2 separate regions of the Homo sapiens genome follow, and region 2 is linked to region 1. Evidence: fine-mapped expression QTL. A gene starts in region 1. The other region holds a variant in brackets. All regions are shown on one strand. Distances are between the middles of the regions.

Region 1 (11,894 bases):
ATCAAAGCCTTTCCAACCTGGTTTCCTCCCGGAGAAATCCATGGATCTAACGCCCTCTTCCAAACACAGAGATAGAAAGTGAGGAGAACTATTAGGAGCAGGGCTGCAATCCCAGCTATCGGGAGGCTGAGGCAGGGAGAATTGCTTGAACCGGGGAGGCGGAGGTTGCAGTGAACCTAGATTGTGCCACTGCACTCCAGCCTGGGCAGCCTGGGCGACAGAGTGAGACTCTGTCTCAATTAAAAGAAAAAAAAAAAAGAAAAGAAAAGAAAAAGAAAAGAAAACATTGCAAACCAATGGGAAGGGATGTATTATTCAATAATAGTAATGGAAAAATTAACCGACTACTGTATTTAGATCTCAAGTTGGGGCCATCTCATAACATCCAAATAAAATGAACCTCATTTAATGTGTTCCTATAGTTCAGTCTGTTCTCACAGCAAGCTCTGGAGCCTGAGTTGTACCACAAAGATATTCTTACCTTGAGGCAAACTTAGTCTGACCTGGAGGCCCTGATAGCCATTGCCCCTAGGACTGGGGGAGGGATGGTCATAACTCCTTAGGGGAAGGGGCGCCCATTCAACCTAAGGCAATTCTCTGGAGAAGGGGCAGCAATGAACTGTCAGCCACCAGCCCTCAAGAAACAGGCAGAGTACGGTAGCTCATGCCTATAATCCCAGTACTTTGAGAGGCCGATGCAGGAGGATCACTTGAGCCCAGCAGTTCAAGGCTTCAGTGAGCTATGATGGCACCACTTCACTCCAGCCTGGGCAACAGAGCAAGACCTCATCTCTCTCTTAGAACAAAAACAAAAACAAAAACAAAAACAGCAGCAACCAGAAGATGGTTATCCCTCATGGTGAAGGGGATCTGGGCAGGGCATCCCCGCCTCTGCTACAGGGAGGGCCTATTAATATTATCATCCCCATATTACAAAAGAGGAAAGCAAGGCCTGAGAAGTGAAGGAACTTACCCATGCCCACAGCTGGAAGTGATGGTATCAAGGTCTGTTGGGTGTCACTGGCTGTTGCTGGAAGACTAAGCAGCTATTGAAACAGAGGACCAGCAAGGAACTTGGAGAAAGGCAGAGCTACTGAGTGAATCTCCTTAGAAAGGGGTGGGGAAGGCCGAGGCGGGCAGATCACGAGGTCAGGAAATCGAGACCACCCTGGCCAACATGGTGAAACCCCATCTCTACTAAAAATACTAAAAATACAAAAAAATTAGCTGGGTGTGGTGGCATGCGACTGTAGTCCCAGCTACTTGGGAGGCTGAGGAAGGAGAATCACTTGAACCCAGGAGGTGGAGTTTGCAGTGAGCTGAGATCACGCCACTGCTCTCCAGCCTGGTGACAGAGCGAGACTCCGTCTCAAAAAAAAAAAAAAAAAAAAGTGGGGGTGGGGACACGAAGGGACAGGGCTGCAAGTTGCTCACAATTACTTTGCTAAAGCCAAGCTACAGAATGACATCTGGATTCTGTAAATTCATGTATACCATGCTTGAGGACTCATGCCGCATATTCCACGTGGTGCTATAGAAAAAGTTCGTGGTGCTATAGAAAAAGTTCAGGTACTGCACGTCTCTTGACGATGATGGTGTTCACTAAGCCTCCTACCAGCTCTGTGACTTTGGGCAAGTTTCTTCACATCTCTGTGCCTCAGTTTCCTTATCTGTAAAATGGGGATAATCATATAAATGGGGTTGGTGTGAGGATTGAACGAGTTAGTATTTGTGGGGTTTTTTGGTTTTGTGTTTGAGATAGATGGAGTCTGTCTCTGTGCCCAGGCTGGAATGCGGTGGCACCATCTTGGCTCTCTGCAACCTCCGCCTCCCGGGTTCGAGCGATTCTCCTGCCTCAGCGTCCCGAGTAGCTGGGACTACAGGCGTCCACCACCACGCCCAGCTAATTTTTGTATTTTTAGCAGAGATGAGTTTTTGCCACGTTGGCCAGGCTGGTCTCAAACTCGTGACCTCAGGTGATTCGCCCACCTCAGCCTTCCAAAGTGCTGGGATTACAGGCATTAGCCACTGTGCCCGGCCTGCAACGTTTTCTTTTTCTTTTTTTCTTTTTGGAGACAGTCTCGCTCTGTCACCCAGGCTGGAGTGCCGGGGCGTAATCTTGGCTCACTGGAACCTCCGCCTCCCGGATTCAAGCGATTCTCCTCCCTCAGCCTCTCGAGTAGCTGGGATTACAGGCATGTGCCACCACGCTAGGCTAATTTTTGTATTTTTAGTAGAGACGGGGTTTCACCACGTTGGCCAGGCTGTTTTCAAACCCCTGACTTCAGGTGATCCGCCTGCCTTGGCCTCCCAAAGTGCTGGGATTACAGGCGTGAGCCACCTTGCCCGGCCCGCAATGTTTTTTCTTTCTTTCCTTCTTTCTTTCTTTATTTTATTTTTTTTTTGAGACGGAGTCTCGCTCTATTGCCCAGGCTGGAGTGGTGCAGTGGCGCGATCTCGGCTCACTGCAAGCTCCGCCTCCCGGGTTCACGCCATTCTCCTGCCTTAGTCTTCCAAGTAGCTAGGACTACAGGCGCCTGCCACCACGCCCGGCTAATTTTTTGTATTTTTAGTAGAGACGGGGTTGCACCGTGTTAGCCAGGATGGCCTCGATCTCCTGACCTCGTGATCCACCCACCTCGGCCTCCCAAAGTGCTGGGATTACAGGCGTGAGCCACCCCACCCGGTCTTTTTTTTTTTCTTTTTTGCCGGCCCGCAATGTTTTCTTAAACTTTTTATTTTTAGCTATCCTGTTGAGGTTCTTCCAGATGAATTTTAGCCTCTGACCCAGGGGTATGATTTGATAGGCGTGGAGTTCTGGTTACTTCTTAAATGAAGAGTTTCCCCAGGATATCTGAACAATTCTCTTGGGTGGAAGACTCAAGGATCATGAAAACGAAAACCAAATTCTAGTCGGCTCCTAAAGTCCTTTTGCCTCCTGCGGTTACCATCAAAGAGCTATGGTCAAAATTCCAAGGGATAATTCAGGGTCTGATTCCACTATATATCCCCAGACCGCCTATACATAAATCCATATTATTGGAGATTTACGCTTAATCCTATAATCTTTTACCTAACAGCTGTCCAGTAGAATTTTCTGGATGTCCAATAAGGTAGCCGCGTGTAGCTCTTGAACACTTGAAATGTGGCTAGTCCCCTAGAGGAACGGGATTAATTTAAATTTACATAGCTACAACTACTTATCGGTCACTGCGGTAATTGTTAAGACTGGTTTTGCCTGTAACTTGCATATGTTTTATTGGACATCAGTTTCAATATTTCATTTGCATTGCTAAAAGTCAAAATCCTTTTGACTTTGCCAGTTACTCAGTGAGAGGACAGTTGGAGCCAGTTTCTGTTCTAGGCTTACAGTTTTAAGGACAGATAAAGGTTAGTTTTTAACCTCGAGATGAACAGACTGTTAAGTTTCTACGGACTTGCCCATGGGGTTCCACAGTGAGCCTGGGCCGGGGAGGCAGGTACTGTGTCAGGGGGAAGAAAAAAGGGGCTTCTAGCTGGGCAGGTGACACACAGGGCATAGGAAGAGGTCAGTTCTTGTGGCCGAGGAGGTCCGGCCCGGGGGTCCCAGGAGCAGAGATCTCCCTTCTCTTCGATGTGGAAAGTGAGGAGGGAGCAGAGCCTTGCTCAGAAACGGAGCTCCCCCAATCCCCCACCGCCCTAGCTACTGGACTGGAACTAGGATGGACACGAATGTCCTTCTCATTGTACTAACTGCACTCAACAAGCGGGAAAGATGAAGCGAGGGGGTTTAAATGTGTGCGTTTGTTGAATGACCCACAAAAACTGAAGGAGCGCGGCCGGACTGATCACACTCCTTGAGACAAAGCGGGTGGGAGACCCAGAGGTGAGGAGGGTGGTCGCCTGTGGGCGAGGACTGGGAGGCCAGGGGTTCTCGGCGAGGCGGTCCCAGGAGGCGGCGCGGAGCCGCTGCGAGGCCGCAGGGCCGGGTCGCAAGATGGCCGGGCCGGCCTCCCGCGCGGGTCGCGCGGGCCACGCGGGCGGGTTTCAGATGTTCCGGGCCCGGGTAGGGGCTGGCAGGAGAGAAGGGGCCGGCTGCGGGGAGGGCTGGCTGAGAAGAAGCGAAAATGGGCGGTTAGCAGCAGGGACCCGGAGCCGGAGGAGCCGAGAGCAGCGCGTGCGCCGAGCTCTACTGCCTCGCGGGAAGGCGGAAGGGTGGGGAGGGCGGCGCTCGGGGCGGGAGGCCCGGCCGGGTCCGCTAGGACAGCGGGGCCGCTGGGAAGTTGTGAGAGCGGCGCTCGGGGGCGCGCTTGCGTGCACGAGGGCCCGGGCCGCGAGCAGCCGCGGCCGTCCCGGTCGCCACCCTTAGCAGCGGTCGCGGTCGGTGCCGAAGCGGTGTTCCCCGCCTTAGCCGCTGGCGCCTCCCAAGAGAGCGGCCGGTGGGCCCTCGTCCTGTCAGTGGCGTCGGAGGCCGGCGCTGCGGTGGCCGCGCCCTTCTGGTGCTCGGACACCGCTGAGGAGCCGGGGCCGGGCACGGCTGGCTGACGGCTCCGGGCAGCTAAGGCTGCCCGAGGAGAAGGCGGCGGCCGCGGCGTAGGCGCACGTCCGGCGGGCTCCTGGAGCCTGGAGGAGGCCGAGGGGACCATGTCCGGGAGGCGCTTCCACCTCTCCACCACCGACCGCGTCATCAAAGGTGCCTGGCGGGCCGGGCCTTCCTCTGGGACCCGCGGGAAACGGCCTTCGGCTGGGCGGCGGCTCGGGGCGGAGGGAGGCTGGGGCCGGGCTGCGCCCACCCTAGGAGGGCTCGGAGGGGTGTAGACAGAGCCGGGCGGCAGCCTCCGAGAGCAGCCACCCGGACCCGGCGTTTTCTGCTGCACCTGGTCAGGTGCCTGGCCGTCAGTGCCAAGTTCCCTCCCGAAGGGTTCAGGGTGCAGTGGGGACTTCTTCTCCCACCGCCCCGAAGGGCCCGGATCCCTGTCTTTTTTTCTCTTTAAGAAACGACTCGGGGGAAGCCATCGGGGGTGGTGTGAGCAGGGAGTCGACTCTTCCAAGTAAGATATTTAAGATTAGATCTTTCTTGACGTCCGCCCCCCACCCTTTTTTAGGACGTATACCATGTGCCTTTTGACCCGCTTTCTCTAGATCATTGCAAGTCACTGCTATTACTGGAATAAACTTAGTATGAACAAGTCAGATAAATCCATTATATGATGTTTAAAATAAGTTTACGGAGCTCTTGACAGGGTAATGGTATTTTATTTTCCCTTTGGTTATAAAGACTTGGAGAATGACGTTTTCTGATTCATATGTGTACCTGCGTTAGATTTCTGTTGTTGTTATAAGAACAAAATGTAAAGGGCTCTTTGCTCTCTAAATCTTGTAGAGTTTTAGGTTATAGTTGTTTCTCCCTTTAAACTAAGAAGATGGATTACACATAACCACTAATTTATGTGCTGCTTTTATTCAGCCGTAAGTCTTAGGCACAACCCTTCTCTCTGAGATTAACAATCGGTTTGAAAGCGCTATTTTGTAAGAAGGGAATAGACTTAGACCAGCTGTGTTAGTGGCCTCTGGATGCAGGGGTTAGCGTGACAGTGGGGAAAATTATTAAGATACTTTTCTTCTTTTTCATTTTGGTATTAGAAGGAGAAAGGCAACTAATACTAGTGACGGGAATACATTTTTAAAAGGTGAAACGCCTTATTGCATGTTCAGGGAGGGGGAAGAATTTTAGTGTATAACTTAGGTTTCCCCCCTCTCTCCCCAAATCAGCCTCATAAATGTTAATTATCTGTACTACATAATTATAATGGGATTTTTGAGATTTATCTGCTTAGCATTTGTATGCTATCGTTAGAGGTTTAACTGAATTGTTCATCTAACTGACATTATCCCCTGAACAGCTAAATTATTGTGACCATTTAAATGTGTCTTCATATTATTAGTGTATAGCCTATAAGAAGTATATAGCCCTCTCTTAAGATTCAGAGTGTACTTAACATAACCTTTTTTGAGGAATCAAGGTCATTATGTACATTAATTTCTGTACTGTGCTGTTAATATGGCCGGTGCGTTCTGCTGTATAAAGTTGTTAGCAGTTTCGTCCTGTACTAAAATGACTTCGCAATGCTATACCAGTTCAGTGTTTTGTTTGCTTTTAGTTTCTCTCTCCAGTACTGTTTTCTGTCAAAATATGCCCTTAACTGCTTTCTAATCTGCTACGTCTTAGCTGAAGTAGGCAGGGAAACCAGATAAGCCAGAACTGTGGGTCAAGTCAGAATAAATAGGATCTTAGTGAAGCTTAGTGCAGCCCTCAGGAATCTCACAATCAAATCACCATTGTGCCATGTAATTTCCACCATAACATGCCATAAGATCAAAAGAAGATTAAAAATCTTAAATGACCCTTAAATATAGTAATAAATATTGTAAAATAAAATGTAATAAAATAAAAAAGTTAAAATGCAGGGGCTAGGGGCAGGCATGGTGGCTCACGCCTGTAACCCCAGCACTTTGGAAGGCCCATATAGGCAGATCACTGAGGTCAGGAGTTCGAAACCAGCCTGGCCAACATGGCGAAACTCCATCTCTACTAAACATACAAAAATTAGCTGGGCATGGTGGCGGGCACTGTAATCCCAGCTACTTGGGAGTCTGAGGCACGAGAATTGCTTGAACCCGGGAGGCGGAGGTTGCAGTGAGCCAAAATGGTGCCACTGCATTCCAGTCTGGGCAACAGAGTGAAACTCTCTCTAAAAAAAAAAAAAAAAAAAAAGCAGGGGCTGGTTTATTGCTACGCATGCTTATTATTAAATAAACACTGTCATCATATCCTGCAGGATGCAAATTTGTTCTTTACCAAAATTAATTACCGAATATTGTGTACTTTTAAGACTGCTCTTAAATAAATGAAATAGAAATAATTTCAGGTCCTTAGAATGTATGGATTTCTCTCCTATATAAAAACTTCGGCATAAGAGCTTGACCACAGCATTTGTGGCTTCATGATGACTTATGGTGCTTTTTTCAGGGTTTTCCAGAGTTTGAAATAGTTGAAGAAAATGAGGTGTCACGTGTGCATAGCTAAGGTCCATTGTAACGGGTACTAAACCCTGGTCTGATGCTATCTTGTTTAGTCACAGCTGTCTGCATTTATTCACAGCTTGAAAGCTTTTTCAGAGGTGATACCACACCCCAGCTATTTTTGTTTCTGTCATTTCCTGTTAACTTTAAAGTGTACCTAATTGTTCTATTTGAGCAAATTTTGGAGAAGAGTGGGTATGTGGGAGAGGTTTGTATTTTAGGTGTCCTTTAAATAGCAGCTTTCTTAAATTGAAGGATGTGGCTGGGCGTGGTGGCTCACACCTGTAATGCCAGCTACTTGGGAGGCTGAGGCAGGAGAATCGCTTGAACCCAGGAGGCAGAGGCTATAGTGAGCCAAGATTGTGCCACTGTACTGTAGCCTGGGCGACAAGAGTGAAACTCAGTCTCAAGCCAAAAAAAAAAAAAAAACTCATCTGTAAAATAGGGTTAATAATACCTTCCCTGTCAAGCCTGGGTCATGCAAGTGACATAAAGCATGTGAAAAGGTCAAGTTAAGGTAGTACTTTGAGACATGATAATAGGTTGGTAATAGATCGCTTACTACAGAAGTAGTTAGTAGAGATATCATTAACATTTGAAAATATCAGAAAGTATGTGAAATTATAAGCTACAAAACTGTTCCTAGTCAGGTGAATACCTATTCTACAGCATAATGGATATGTGGGTGAAATCTCGTCGGTAACAATGTGAAGAGATCAGCACAGTTCTGTCTGGTACTCCCTAGGCAGCAGATTTCTTCTCTATCTGTTGAAGGTGTTTATTTTATGTTTAAACCTTCTTATGATTTTACTCATTCATTAAATGTTTATTGAGTGCCATCTGCAATGTACCCTAGTAGGTTGCTCATTCATTTCTTCTTTGCTTTAAAAGTAGCATTTCTGTGAGCCTTTAGAGCAGTTTATATGCACTGGGGCACCATAACTGGTATCTAAGCCAGAGAACTAGGCACCCAAATGATTAAATTGTGATATTCTGTCTGCTTTATTTTTTTTTCTAGTTTCCACGTTCCTTTTCCTGTTTAAGGACATGTTTTTTCTTTGACAGTGATTTTTATAAAAGCAGTTTATTTCCCTGGAATGAATCTTTTCAGAAGCAACAAGGAAATTTCAGTAGGAATTACATGACAAATATAGAGAATCCATTGTCTTATTTTGTTACTTTATGGCCAGATGGGGTTTAACAGAAAAGTCAGATTTCTTTTTAGTAAGGTGCTGATACATTTCTCCCTTTCTCTTAGAATTCAAATATATTGTGTATTCACAGAGTACTGTACCATTTTTACCACACATGGCAGGCTACTGTTTCTTTAATATCGTGGCACTGGGAATATTGTGCTTATGGCTTTCTTAAAATATTTTAATATTAGTGTGGACAAAAATTGCTATTTCTACAAATATACCCTAAACCCGATTTCAATCTCTGGTACCTATACTTCATTTCTTTCCACAACTCTCCCCCGACTCTCCCTTTTTTATATCCATAATGGATTTACCGAGGGTTTAAAATTTTTTCTCTTAAATATAAGCTTAATCCTGCTACTTATACAATTTGAAAATCAGAAAGGGAAGAAAAGAAAGACTTCATATTCCTTCCCAGCAGAAATAACTGCTTTTAATACCTTTGTGTGTTTCCATCTGCAGGTATATTTTGAATTCAAAGGAAAATGGATCACACATATTAAAGCTTTTGTTATGCAAATATTTCATATTATTTTAACATAAATATTGTAATTTTACCTAAATATTTCCATAATGGTTTCAATCAGCATGGAAATGGTTTTAGAGTGCTTATATTAATATTTTGGTTCTTTATATTTTCAGTGGGGACACATTAGTCACTTGATACAATACCAACCCAGAAGAAACATTTTCAAGTATAAATTTTCAATGTGAATACGTTTTAAAGTTGATATCTCCTGGATTTGTCAACAGTATTTGTTTAATTTATGCTTCATTTACCATTGTGATTAACAAGCTGCCAAACTTTTGAAACATTCAAAATCAGTGCTAATCGAGATTCATACATCTGAGTAGAAATCTGGAACCTCTGAAAGGGCATCTTAATTTAAACACTTAATTTTTTTCTTTTTGAGCAAGGATAAAGTATTCTTTCTTACCTATACGTTATTGGTTGTGATCAAAGCTTTATTTATGGTCTGACATTTGATAATTAAGCTTTCTCTCTTTTATTGCATTTTAAAATAGGATTAAAAATTTTTTTTGCCTTACGTAATTTTTAGTGTACCATAACTTTTACTGGAGTGTATATGGGAAAATGTACAAATTATAAATGTACAGCTTAGTGAGTTTTTACAAATTTAGCACCCACATACCCATGTAACCACTCAACCAAAATAAATAGATTACCAGAATCCCAGAAACAAGCATGAGTTCACGTTCAGTCCACTGGTTTCCATCCCTAAATGGGCAACAGTGGGGAAAATATGACACTTGTAACCATTATTCTGGCGTCTAACGTCATATTTGTAAAGTAACATACTAATCACATCTTACTGTAAAGTGAAAAAAACAAGGGACTCTGAGAGAAAAATGCTAAGGACTCATTACTTAAAGTGAAATAATTAATTAAAGACCTTTTCCTAAGCAGTATTTGATACTAGGAATTGAATGTCTTTCTATTAAGGTAACATTTTTGGAAAAAGCTAATTTTTAGGCCAGGCGTGGTGGCTCACGCCTATAATCCCAGTACTTTGGGAAGCCGAGGTGGGTGGATCACCTGAGGTCCGGCCAACGTGGCGAAACCCAGTCCCTATTAAAAATACAAAAATTAACTAGGCATGGTGGTGCACACCTGTAGTCCCAGCTACTTAGGAGGCTGAGGTAGGAGAATCGTTTGAATCTGGGAGGCAGAAGTTGCAGTGAACTGAGATTGCGCCACTGCACTCTAGTCTGGGTGACAGAGCAAGACTCTGTCTCAAAAAAAAAAAAAAAAAAAAAAAAAAAGCTGATTTTTAGACATGTCTCTATTAGAGACAAAATTATTCATTTAATTCCGGGATTTGTAGTCATTTTGGAACTTTGCTGCTACTTAATTGCTAAATGACTAATGGGAATAAAGGGATGTCTTAGAATCATTACCATCCTTTGGTGCAATCATTACTAGACTATAATGCCCGTTTATAGTTTTTTTTGGTGGGGGACAGGGTCTCGCTCTGTTGCCCAGGCTGGAGTACAGTGGCGCGATCATGGCTCGCTGCAGCTTCAGCTTCCTGGGCTCAGGTGATCCACCTCAGCCTCCCGAGTAGTTGGAACCACAGGCATAGCATACGCCACCGTGTCCAACTAATTTTTTTTTTTTTTTTTTTTTTGTGACAGAGTCTCGCTCTGTCGTCCAGGCTGGAGTGCAGTGGCGCAATCTCGGCTCACTGCAAGCTCTGCCTCCCGGGTTCATGCCATTCTCCTGCCTCAGCCTCCTGAGTAGCTGGGACTACAGGCACCTGCCACCATGCCCGGCTAATTTTTTTTTGTATTTTTAGTAGAGACGGGGTTTCACTGTGTTAGCCAGGATGGTCTCGGTCTCCTGACCTCGTGATCCGCCCGTCTCGGCCTCCCAAAGTGCTGGGATTACAGGCGTGAGCCACCGAGCCTGGCCTAATTTTGGTATTTTTTATAGAGGTGGAGTTTCGCCCTGTTGTTGAGGCTGGTCTTGAACTCCTGGGCTCAAGCGATCCTCTTGCCTTTGTCTCCCAAAGTGCTGGGATTACGGTGTGAGCCACTGCGCCCTGCCTTTTATAGTCTTAATGTTAAAATTTAGCAGCATTTTACATTTCAAAACTGAGGCCTAAAACTTTCAACCTAACCTAAGTGGTATCTTTCTTAGTTACCCTTATATTCTATCTGGTTATCCAGATGAATGTAGAGAGAACTTTTAGTTCCCCATATTCAATTTTGTTTTGTTGGCACTTTAGATTATCCTGAAGTCTTTTAGTTTCTTGAGTCTTCGTTTGTTGTTTGAAGAGGGTTTAACTTGGTAACCAGGATCTTTAAATTGGGCACAGAAAGATATACTGGATGGCTGGACAAGATAATGTATTTCTTTGATGATCATTACTAGATTTACTAATTGCTAACAGTTCATGAAGGTTTTTTTGCAGTGTCTAGACAATGTCAGCCCAAGAGACTGAAATTCTAAATGAACAAACACTGAGAAATATTTGAAGAATTCATTCAGTAATTACCTATGTAACATTCTTGCTAAAGGTGTTTAATTTAAGCTGAGCTTAGTTATAGTAGACAATCAGACAAATCCAGTTTGTGGGACTTTCTACAAGACAGTTGGCCTGAACTCTAAAAATTTCAAAGTGGTGAAAACGAAACGAAACAAAAAGGGCAGGAAGACTGTTCTAGATGAAAGAAGTTGAAAGAGAAATGACAGTCAAGTACAGTGTCAAGCCTGGATTAAGAAAACAAAAAACCATAGAGGACATTTTGGGGATAACTGGGAAAATTTGAATATGGTGTATATATTAGACGGTATTATACCTTTTTTTTGTTTTTTTTTTTTTTTGAGATGGAGTTTCGCTCTTGTTGCCCAGGCTGGAATGCAATAGCGTGATCTCGGCTCACCGCAACCTCTGCCTGCCGGGTTCAAGCGATTCTCCTGCCTCAGCCTCCCGAGTAGCTGGGATTACAGGCATGCACCACCGCACTGGGCTAATTTTATATTTTTAGTAGAGACGAGGTTTCTCCGTATTGGTCAGGCTGGTCTCGAGCTCCCGACCTCAGGTGATCTGCCCACCTCCGCCTCCCAAAGTGCTGGGATTACAGGTGTGAGCCACCGTGCCTGGCCTA
Region 2 (11,894 bases), 97 kb after region 1:
CGAGACCAGCCTGGCCAACATGGTGAAACTCCGTCTCTACTAAAAATAGAAAAATTAGCCAGGTGTGGTGGTGGGCACCTGTGATCCCAGCTACTCGGTTGCCTGAGACAGGAGAATTGCTTGAATCCGGGAGGCGGAGGTTGCAGTGAACCGAGATCGCGCCACTGCACTCCAGCCTGGGCGACAGAGTGAGACTCCATCTCAAAAAAAACCAAAGTGACCAATAAACATATGAAAAGATCTTAATATTATTATAGTTTTTCATCTAGGAAATAGATATTAAAACCACACTGAGGGCCGGGAGCGGTGGCTCACGCCTGTAATCCCAGCACTTTGGGAGGCTGAGGCAGGCAGATCTCTTGAGGCCACGAGTTCAAGAACAGCCTGGCCAATACAGCAAAACCCCACCTCTACTAAAAATACAAAAATTAGCTGAGCATGGTGGCATACTCCTGTAATCCTAGCTACTCAGGAGGCTGAAGCACTAGAATCACTGGAACCCGGGAGGTGGAGGTTGCAGCGAGCCAAGATCACACCATTGCACTCCAGCCCGGATCACAGACCAAGACTGTTTCAAAAAAAAAAAAAAAAACAAACACCACAGTGAGGTACCATTACATACCCACTAGAATGGCTAAAAATTAAAAGTTTGGGCCAGGGCATGGTGACTTACACCTGTTATCCCAGCACTTTGGGAGGCTGAGGTGGGAGGATCACTTGAGGCCAGGAGTTTGAGGCTGTAGTAAGTTATGATTGTGCCACTGCACTCCAGTCTGGGCAACAGGGCGAGACCCTGTCTCCAAAAAAAAAAAAAAGAGTCTGACAATACCAAGTATTGGTGTGTTTGTGGAGAACTAGTACTAGGTATGTTGCTAAAGGGCTTGTAAATTGATTCAAGCGCTTTAGAAAACTACTGGGCAGTAAAGCTAAACATATGTCTACCCTGTAACCCAGCAGTTCCACACCTGGTGTATATCCAAGAGAAACTGGATGTGTTCACCAAAGGTTATGCATGGGAATGTTCACTGTAGCTTTATTCATAATAGCTCAAAGCTGGAAACAACCCAGATGTCCATCAGTAGCAGACTACATAAATAAATTGTATTCCGAAATATAAATAAATAAACTGTATTCTATTTATACAATGGAATAATACTCAGCAATAAAAAATAACACATTATGGACACATGCTACAACATGGTTGAATCTCATAGACATTACAGAAAACTGCAAAAGCCAGACATAAAAGAGCACAGACTGTCTGATTTATATAATATTTAAGAACCATTGGACTAATCAGTGATAATAAAGTCAGAATGTCACTTCCTCTGGTGGGAGAATATTGTCCCAGAAGGGCACAGGGAACATCTAGAGTGTTAGGAATGTTCTGTATCATTATCATGGTGGTAGTTAGACATGCGTATACTTATGTAAGAATGTGTTGAGCTGTACACTTCAGATTTGTGCACCTGCTGTGCCTCGTGTATATTTTGTACCTTAAAGAAAACAGTTTGAGGGGGTTGCAGTTTCTCAATCAGAGAGGGAGTTTGCCTCTTTCCCTGCAGCCATATTCTATTCCAGTGCCAAAATCACCTCTTCAATCAGAGTACCAATTCTGAAATTTACCCAGGAGCTGACTTCTTAGGAAAGGGCTTTCTGGAATCCCGGAATGAAAAGGTTGATGTTCGTGAGAATAAACATGCAAGGGGAAGAGACAGGAGATCATATTACTGGGTGACTAACACTAGGTATGAAAATTGGTATTGAAGCATTAATATCTTAAACTAAAGTTTAACTGCTTTTTTTGCTCCCCTTGTTTTGTTGAATTGTTTCTATTTAGTTTTTTTCCCACCTCATCGTTCATCTGGCCTTTTTTCTTTTTCTTTTTTTTTCCCAAGAGACAGAGTTGCCCAGGCTAGAATGTAATGGCTAGGTACTGTCATAGCTCATGGCAGCGCCCGGTTGCTGGGCTCCAGCAATCCCCCTGCCTCAGCTACTCGAGTGGCTGGGACTACAGGCATGTGCCACTGTGCCTGGCCATCCTGCCATTTATAGGAGTCCTTTTTCTTTTGTAGAAATTTCATTGCTATTGACTAACAGGGACAAACCCATTTTTTTTCTTTTCTTGGAGACAGAGTCTTGGTCTGTTGCCCACGCTGGAGTGCAGTGGCACGATCTTGCCTCACTGCAATCTCCGCCTCCCAGGTTCAAGCAATTCTCCTGCCTCAGCCTCCCAAGTAGTTGGAACTACAGGCGTACACCGCCATGCCCGGATAATTTTTTATATTTTAGTAGAGATGGGGTTTCACCATGTTGCCCAGGCTGGTCTGGAACTCCTGAGGTCAGGCAATATGCCCGCCTCAGCCTCCCAAAGTGCTAGGATTACAGGCGTGAGCCACCGTGCCCAGCCCTTTTTTCTTTTTATAAGATTGAATTCCTCCTTCTCTTTCAAATAGAATACTGAGATATTAGAGTTCAGCTATTTAGAAGGAAGTCTGAACATTTTCTCTTTGGAAGTATAGTTTATTTTCCTAGTTCCTTTAGTTTCACAGAAAGTATCAGTAAACTATTTCCGATTGAATATTTTTCTCAAATAAATGTGCAGTTTTTTGTGAGCAGAATATGTTCCCACCATTGCTTTGCTTGGTAATTAGTCATCTGAGATATTCCGAGAGCAACTCTGACAACAAAGATAGAGTAATAGGCAGTAACATGAGTTAAGAGAAAAAAAGGAATGTCCTATAGCATCCTTAGGTAAACATTATGAAAATTTGCTGATCCACAAAATTGTTTTAATTGAAACCAACTTTGTCTAAACCTTGAGAAAGCAAATCTGCAAATCAGGGCTGAGCAACAGAATTATATAGCTATGTTATTTGGAAATTTGTTTCTAATTCTTGGTCACCTTTTGGGCTCAGCCCCAAAGTATGAGTTGAATATGAGTGTTTTAATCAAGATAGGACCATTGATTGATACTTCCAAAGTTGATAGAAATCTTCAGTAATGTGTGAGAACAAAGGTAAAGTTGGAGCCAACTTTTTAGAGTTTCTTATTCTTATTGATTCACAGGAAGTGAGTTTATTTTGTTATTTTCACATTGGAGTCTCAGTTCCACCAGCTCATTGGCTAACTGGAGCATTAACTAAAAAAGACCTTTTATTGTTCATATAACTTAACTTGGAGAGCTTTCAACCAACAGTATCCCATATGGCCATGTAACATACATTCATGTATGTCTCACCTTGATCTAAGAGGGATTGGCGTGAGTTACAGTATACATGAAACATAGTGGAGTAAAATAAATATGCTTGGAAATTGAAGCACAAAGGTAAATAAAAATAAAGCCAATAGCCACAAATTTGACTCTAAGCATCCCAGTAGCCAAAATAGTGGGGAAAGCCAAGGACAGGACAAGATTCACAAAGACCATCAGATTAAAACAGATCAGTTATAAATTGGACTACATCAAAATTAAAAACTCTGTACTGCAAATGGTACTATCAAGAAAATGAAAAGACATCCCACAGAATGGTTGAAAATGTTTTCAAATCATATATCTCCTAAGAGATTGGTATCTAGAAAATATACTCTTACAACTGAATAAGAAGACAACCCAGTTAAAAATGGGTAAAGAATTGAATTGACATTTTTCCCATGAAGACATACAAATGGCACATGAAATGATGTTTGACATCATTAGACATTCAGAAAATGCTAATCAAAACCACAATGGGATACCACTTCACAGTCAGTAGGATGGCTGTGAAAAGACAGCAGTTAATAAGAAGTGTTGATGAGAATGTGGAGAAATTGGGACCTTCTTAACACTGCTGGTGGAAATGTAAAATGGTACAGCTGCTTTGGAAAACATTCTGACAGGTCTTCAAATGATTAAACATAGAATTGACTTATTACTCAGCAATTCCAGTCATAGCTACATACCCCACAAAGAAATGAAAATATGTCCTCGCAAAAACTTGTACACAAATGTTCATAAATGGCATTCAACATAATAGCCAAAAAGCAGAAAAAAGCAATTGTCCATAAACTGGATAAACAAAATGTGGTAAACGCAATGGAATACTATTCAGCCATAAAAAGGAATTAAATGCAGGTATACATGTCAACATGACTGAACCTTGAAAACATTATGCTAAGTGAAAGAAGTCAGTCACTACAGACCACATATTATATGATGCCACTCATTTGAAATGTCCAGAACAGACCAATCTAGAGAGAAAGTAGATTCGTGTTCAACCAGGATTAAGGGGAAGAGGTGAGGGAAGGAAATGGGAAGTGAGTGCTAATAAGTGGGGGATTTCTCATTGGGGCAATGAAAATATTCTAAGCACAGATTGTGGTGATGGTTGCACAGCTCTACTATATTAAAACCATTGACTTGTATACTTTAAACAAGTGAGTTTTGTGGTATATGAATTCTATTTCAGTTAAGATGTTAAAAAGGAAAACAAAAGTTCGGGTCATTTGATATGACTGTTTCTTATAATGGCCCTTACTGCAGGCTGCTATCTTTATACCCAATGTGAATAGCAATTCTGGGAGGGCCCCAAACAAGGTAATATCATACACATTTTACCGTGTAGCTTTTAAGCTCTAATTAGACCAACACTCAGTGTAGAGTTTCAGCAATGCTTTGTTCTCCCACTTCCTAACAGTTACATCAGTGATGTGCTGTGAGAAGGCACTGTAGCTTTCTTGTCAAGGGTATTTGTTCTACTTAAGGAGATTAGAGAGGGTGTGACAGTGATTTAATACATGCCTGCCTATGGTTGACAAATGAAAGCACTTCATAAGTAGATTTCAGTTATCCATTTTTCACATTCCATTAGGTAGTTAATGTAGTTCTTTCAGTTTCTCTTCTCATATTGATATATAAAGCCTTGGGAATAGCAGCAAACTGTTACTGCTCATTATTCTTCACTGCCTTCTTTTGGCAAATTGGTACTGGAGTAACTGACAGGGTTCTCCTAATAGGATCTTTCTTGTGGCACCCTGTACCTTTTCATATATTAGCGTTTTTACTGTCTGAGAAAGGAGATGCAAGGAAGTTTACCTGTTGGTACTAATTTTTAAGTTGCTTCCTTTTCCATTGCTAAGAAAGAAGAGGGCTTTCTTAGTTACTGGCCAACTCTCTTGAACACTGTATGGAAGCCATATGGATTGGAAACATTAGCCTCTGCTATATTTTTATAGCAGATGGGTACACACATTTGCATTAGGAATTCAATAGTTCTATGCTTTTGTTAGCTTTGTACTCCACTCCTGGACAAGAAATAACCCTTCACATGGAACCTATTTTTCTCTCCTTCCAAATGCCAGTCTGCTGTTCAAAGGCCACTCTTTTTTTTTTAAATGAAGTAATTAATAGGGCAGTTGGACTCCAAATAAGTCACTTGAGAGCAGTAAGATGTAGTTGTAAATAAGCTTTTTGAATAGGACCCAGCAGTAGCTCATTTAATATCACCTGAGATATTTTACAAACTAAGGATTGTTGTGATGTCAAACTATTTGATTCTACATGTTGTTTCGATACGTGGATATCAAGATATAAAGTAGCAGTTGGCTACCTAAAATGAAAAGAGCAATGTTCCATGGCACCTGAAATGTTAAAAATATTAGAAACTCTCCCCCACCCCATATTCCTCCCACCCCAATTGAGTCTCTCGCAATAATCTTCTCGCTTCTCTAACTAGTTGACTTTCATTATGGATGGGGATAGGCTAAAAAACGGGCCCCTGGGATGGCTGTGCTGCCATCAGTGCTGTTGGTTTACTCACTCTTTTTCTGTCTTCGTTTTTGCATGCTACTGCTCCTGCCCTCTTACAGCCACAGTAGAAGCGGTAGAGGCCCGGGAAGGTATGGCCATATTACTCTGATAGATGTGATCC[A/T]TGTGTCTGTGTACTGGTTTTTCGAAGCTTTATCAACATTTCAAATATTTTATTATTGCATCACCAGAACTATAACAGTGAGAAAAGGTATAGTTGTTTCTAGGCATGTTAACGAAGCAGGTGTTTCCTTTGTGTCCTATCTTTGCATTAATTTTAAATAACCTTCACCACAGCTACAGTTTTTTTTCTGGGCTCTATCAGCTTTAATGCAACGGCAGAAGCTTAAGCAACTGGTCATGAGAGGTCAAGTGGTTTACTTCTGTATCCCTTCCATGTACAAGAGACATCCATTTGATTCTCAAGAGAGCCAAATAGGTCAGCCTCTTCAGCGATTCTAAAAGATTTCAAGAGCAGAGGCAGAAGTAGACTGGAATTTAGTTCAATTCATTTCTGAGGTTGCCCTAAGGTAGGCAAGTTAAATTAACTTTGTTTCTATGAAAACCATTGGAACTGATAAACTTGTATTATACTTGTAATTGTTTTATTAGGTAAGATGGTTCAAAACGCGAATGCCTTAACTTGGTGTTATAAAAGTTGAATCGGAAGGAAAATATGTAGAAGCTATTTTTAAGTTTTTAACTTATGTACAGCTCCTGGTTGTGCAAGATAGAAAGCTGTCCTAAACGAAAAGATTAGCTCTTTTGTTACTTTTTTTTGTGGTCTATGTGGCCTTTGTGCGAAAAGCAACTACCCTGGGTTTAACTTGTTCAATTATTCTAGTGTTGCCTTTGTTCTAGCATTGAGTATGTTTCTGGTGCATAAGACACTCTTTCTTAAAGGTACTGGGGCCCAGTAAGTACTTGTTAGCTTTTTGTTAGGTATATGTCTACCATGATTATGCATATAGAGCTTTTATGAAAATTACTTTCACAATTTCAGCTGCCCTTTGGGCTTTAAGGAAGCAGTAGCTGCAGCCAAGACTGATTCAGTCAGACATTGCCCATGACTTTCACTAGACGTGTGCTCCATAGCCACCTTTCTGTGTGTTTCTCTAGGAGGTTGCTGTGTGCTAAGAAACTTTTTTTAAGCCTGTTGCTTTGCTGCCTAATTGAGCTCTCTCCACCTGCTTCCTGTTTTTCTGTAGCCATCAGAGGGTTCTCGCTTCAGCACAAGATCCGGAGTTTTGAAGAAGCGCGAGGTCTGGACCGAATTAATGAGCGAATGCCACCCCGAAAGGATAGCATACACGCTGGTGGGCCAATGAAATCTGTAACCTCAGCACACTCACATGCTGCGCACAGGAGCGACCAAGGGAAGAAAGCCCATTCATGACTTAGAGTCCTGCCGTGGCTCAGGTGGATCTAAAACTCAAGAACAAATTCTATTTATTTATTATTGGAAAATGAAAAGCAACTCAAAACAACTTCAACGTGGAGGTGCATTTATAATTCAGTCTGCATTTATTCTGTAAAAAGGTGGCTGTTTTATAAATTCTTTTAATTTATGTTCAATATATATAAAAAGTGCATCTGTTTTGTTTTTCCCTTTTTTCTCCATAATTTTAAGAAATGAATCTGATTGTTGTCAACACATTTGTGAAGTCTTGTGCTATAAAGGGGAACTTCCCCTAATAAAAGGGCCTTGGAAACCTCAAACCTGGGTTTCTGACTTGAACTAGTCAGTCTTCATTATTGTTTTTTGGAAGGTAATGTCTTTCATGTAAGACTAATAACGTTTCAAATGCAAGAAGATTTTTTTCCTTTTCATTTTTTTCCTTTTCTGCTGGGTGCCATTGAAGAAAGTCCTCTTAGATTTCAGTGGCTAAAAGTGCTTCCCTTTTGATGGGAAACTGGATCATAGTAGAACTTCAAAGTGAATAACCCAAATCCAGTGATTTTAAGGGCGAAGGGAAATGTTTTCTATAATAACCTACTTTCTCTGGACTCTCAGTTCGTTTAAATATGTTCTAGTAAACAAAATAAAAAATAATAAGGGATGTTCTTAGATTTACTTAAAATCTGTTCATCTGACCATGGGCATGATTGGTTTAAATTTCCTTAGGACTTTGGAGGAGAAAGATTTTCAGAAAGCTTTCACAATTGCCAGATTATTTTACTTTCATTTTTGAACCCCAGGTGACTTCTGTAAAGGAAGTCACTTTCTAAATATTTGATAAATGCCCTCAGCAGCACCTTCTACAACAAGATGTATATATGCCCTTCTAGGCTGTTGGCATCAGCTCTCGCATGTGCCTTCCCATCATCCTTCTGTTGTTCCCTGTCAGTATTACTGAAACCAGCTGGGGTAGTAGAAACTGACAAGAGTTCAATGGTCCCCTTGTGAATTGAAGGTCTTGCTAAAGAACATTGGATAAGTGAGGATTTCCTGTCTTCTATATCAGTTACTCTTTAGGTTGAATGGTATTTCAGCCTTCATTAGCATATTTTGGAATGCGAAAAGCAAGTGTTCAGATGTAGTGTGTGAATTATCTTCCCTTAGTTTGATTTTCAAGTCACAACCAACTAGTGAAGGAAATTTTGGGGCTACTTAGGCTCCCATTTTAACTAGCCTCATCGCAGGAGCCGTGTCATAATAGTCATTGGTCAGCTCTGCAGTGAATGTACATGCCTGGGAACATTACATCAGAGCATGGAACGTGCACATTTATGGCATTCCTTAGTGTCATTTGTGATGCGGCAGTCTAGCACTAAAGCAAGTATTTCAGACAGTAATACTTCATATTGGGAGTTTCCAGGAAACCAGAAAAACAAAGAACAACATAATTTTGGTGGTGTTTTTTTTTTTCCCCAAAAAACCATACTTCTCATTAGAAGAATGAAGACTTAGCCCATCTATCTCTGTTTTCCTATACCTTTTTTTCTAACAGTTTCTGATTTGTTTATGGCAGAAATCAAGGCACTCTTAGGGAATGGAATCTGCCTGCATAGATTGCTCCATTAATAAAAAGATAGGAAGGAGATAAAGGATCTCTGAATGGGTTGTGAGTAAAACCTGTGAAAGAAGGGGGGAAAAGTCTCTAGTAACTGTCTTTTCCTGATTGTTGTTGAACTCAAATCGGGTATTAAGCACCTAGATATCCTTATGCTCCTTTCTTTTCCAATCCCAGGATTAGAAAAGATCCTGTCTTTGGAAATTTCACTGATGAAAGTCATTCCATGTGACAGACTGCAGAGCTGCTAGTACCTTATCCCTTTTCTCCTTTTCATTAAGGCTGTTACATATATACAATCCACAGGTAGAAACCACTCTTAGGGGCCTCCATAAGCAGGCAGTAGTAGAAATAGTTACTGTAAATCCTTATAAGCAAAAAATAATATTTTATTACGGATGATTATTTAGGAATGGCTTCACTATTGTCTCAAAAAGCAGAATGATAAAGCAAGTTTCCTTGACAGAACCATCACAAAATTATATACAGTATTTCACTGGTTCCCTCTGAGCTGTGGAGGAATCAGCCAGAGTAGAGAGGTAGGTGGTCCTGGTTCAAGAAAACCTGAGTAAGTTTTAGAGCAGCACTAACTCTTAGAGGAGGTTAAGTTTGAAAATTCGGTTGAATTCTAAAGATAAAGTTATCCCTTCCGTTCTGTAGCTGTTTTAATGTAAACAACAACTTCCAAGATGGCTGGACCCTGCCCTGGGTTTGCTCGAAGACTACTTTTCCTGTCTAGGGCCATGATTAAACAGACATTTTAATTGCTGTCAAAGTTCTGCAGTTTTGGTGTTTTCAAAGTCTCTTCTGTTTTATTGAATGTTTCCCCCTGTGTGTGCTAAAGATACTGGAAACAGTTACATTGTGTTTTCCTTCACAGGACCTTCCTTGTGGAAGGCCCACAGGGACCTTCTTTTTCTGCAACTTCTCCCATTTAGGAAAACAAAAACAAAACAATTCCTCAGGCATGTCAGGACTCCTTTGTAAACTTTTCTGAAATGCCATTTTGAAAATGATGCTTCACATGGACCAGGTTTCTCACTTTTAGTGACATACATATCACAGGACATTTAAATCGATCAGATGATTATTTCTTTTACAAATTTGAAAACTCATCTAATGTAAGTTCAAAACATATATCCTTTTTTTATTTCCGTGTTCTGAATGTTTAGAGCAAAAGCAAAACAATAAGCCAAGGGGGTGTGTGTGTGTGTGTGTGTGTGTGTGTGTGTGTGTGTGTTTCTTTAATAGAATGATAAAACAAAAATAGCCTCCGTTTTCCTTAAACTCTCAAGGTGACACTTTGGTTACAAGTAGAGGCATTGCTGATTTGCTGGTCTTTTGTGACTGGATATTGATTGGCAAGGTAAGAATTGCTTATCACACTCTGATGAGCTTGATACTGCTCCTTGCCTAGGAGTAAAAGACTCAGCCTCTCCAGGAACATCAGTATTTTTTATGTCTTTCATTGCCTTTTTTGGTTCTTCCATGAACAATTCAATGAAGCAAGTTTCTCTCAATAGCAAAGATTTGCCTTCTTAAGATTAGCTTTCTTTGCCATCCTGATAACTTAGGGATGATTTCCTGACATTGTTCAAAATAGGAACAGAGAAACCCTTATTTGTTTTGTCAATAGACTATTATTGAATGTCATTAAGGAGCAAGGGAAGATTTTTAAAAATTGGATAATTTCGGGGCCTTTTTTGCCTTTTGGCATTGTCCCTTAGATCCTCTTCCCTCTGAGTGCTTTAAAAACACACGGTTTGAGGCACAGCTGATCTCTATAGGAAAAATATTATAAGCCATGCCTGCATGAGACACAGCTGGACTTGCTGTTCATGGTCATTATTCAGGAGTCTCTCCAGCCTCAGAATGAGTAAAGCTAAAATCTGCTCCCTCTACCCTGCCCTATTTTATGTAAATATGGTAGCTGATCTCCAAAATTTTCAACTGTACCATATCTATAAAGTTTAACCTTTTAAGAATTTTCATCCAAGCTGGGCGCGGTGGCTCGCACCTGTAATCCCAGCACTTTGGGAGGCTGAGGCCGGTGGATCACAACGTCAGGAGATCGAGACCATCCTGGCCAACATGGTGAAAGCCCATCTCTACTAAAAATAACAAAAATTAGCTGGGTGTGGTGGCACATGCGTGTAATCCCAGCTACTGGGGAGGCTGAGGCAGGAGAATTGCTTGAACCAGGGAGTTGGAGGTTGCAGTGAGCCGAGATTGCGCCACTGCAGTCCGCAGTCCGGCCTGGGCGACAGAGCGAGACTCCGTCTCAAAAAAAAAAAAAAAAAAAAAAAAGAATTTTCATCCTGACCAATCTGGGTGACCAATCAATTAAATTGGTTTAGGAAGAGCTTGCCCTAGATTGGTTGATTTCATAATTTTTCTTTTTATTAATTATTGGGTTTTTCTCTCTGATCTCTGCATTGAAAATTATTTCCTAAGCCATAAAGACTTGTTGAGGTACCATTCTAGAATCCCCAATATTTATTCTAGTTGTTATAGTAACAGTGGAACCCAAGTTTCTCCTAAAGCATTACCCAGCTTTCCTTGCCCAGGCAGAAAAGATGGCAGAGGGAGGGTGAACCCAGGGCCCATCTGTGGGTATGGGCTCCAATTTCCTAAATTGTTTGTGGTTATAACCATGGCTTCCACCTTGTCTGGCACCGGGTCCACATCTTTTCTGAGACCTGCTAGAAGGTGAGTAAAGGACAGCCTAGGAAGGCCCAGCAGTGGATTGAGGAGGGTCGGGTTACCTGGAGGACGGGTCCCAAAACTGGCTTGCCACAGTCCCTTTCAGTATTGCTGTGATGAGACGCCTGGAGGAAAGCTGTCAGAGCAGATGTGTGTAGAGGAAGAAAGTTGTGTAGTCGAAGGACAGTGTTGTTTACTCTTATCTTGAGTGTGAGTAGAGAACTGTATTAACAATAGGGCTTTGTGCCATTGACAGAGTGTGAAAGAGGGAGCCTATATTACATTGGGGTTTGGGACCTGACCTGCCTATATCTAGCCAGCGAGAGTGAATGGGGTCAGTGTTAGCTGCCTTCATCTATGCAGTCACAAAGGTAAAGATGATACTGGAGAGT

The links.
Region 2: its variant is fine-mapped to the expression of PPP3CC in whole blood (TOPMed, PIP above 0.99).

What each region holds. Positions count from the first base shown.
Region 1 is chr8:22,436,787-22,448,680 of GRCh38, forward strand. PPP3CC (protein phosphatase 3 catalytic subunit gamma) reads left to right here and starts at 4,292. Exons shown (of 14, transcript NM_005605.5): 1 at 4,292-4,672. The coding sequence starts at 4,624. RefSeq lists silencers at 3,875-4,064, 4,155-4,814 and an enhancer at 7,688-7,847.
Region 2 is chr8:22,533,622-22,545,515 of GRCh38, forward strand. PPP3CC (protein phosphatase 3 catalytic subunit gamma) reads left to right here. Exons shown (of 14, transcript NM_005605.5): 13 at 5,848-5,877; 14 at 6,994-7,504. The coding sequence ends at 7,181. All of the region lies in intron 1 of LOC124901905 (a long non-coding RNA gene), which reads right to left. It also overlaps a transcript of SORBS3 not described here. Among named protein-coding and RNA genes, the nearest start is that of SORBS3, 12 kb to the right of the region's middle. The variant A/T (reference allele first, on the strand shown) is at 5,910.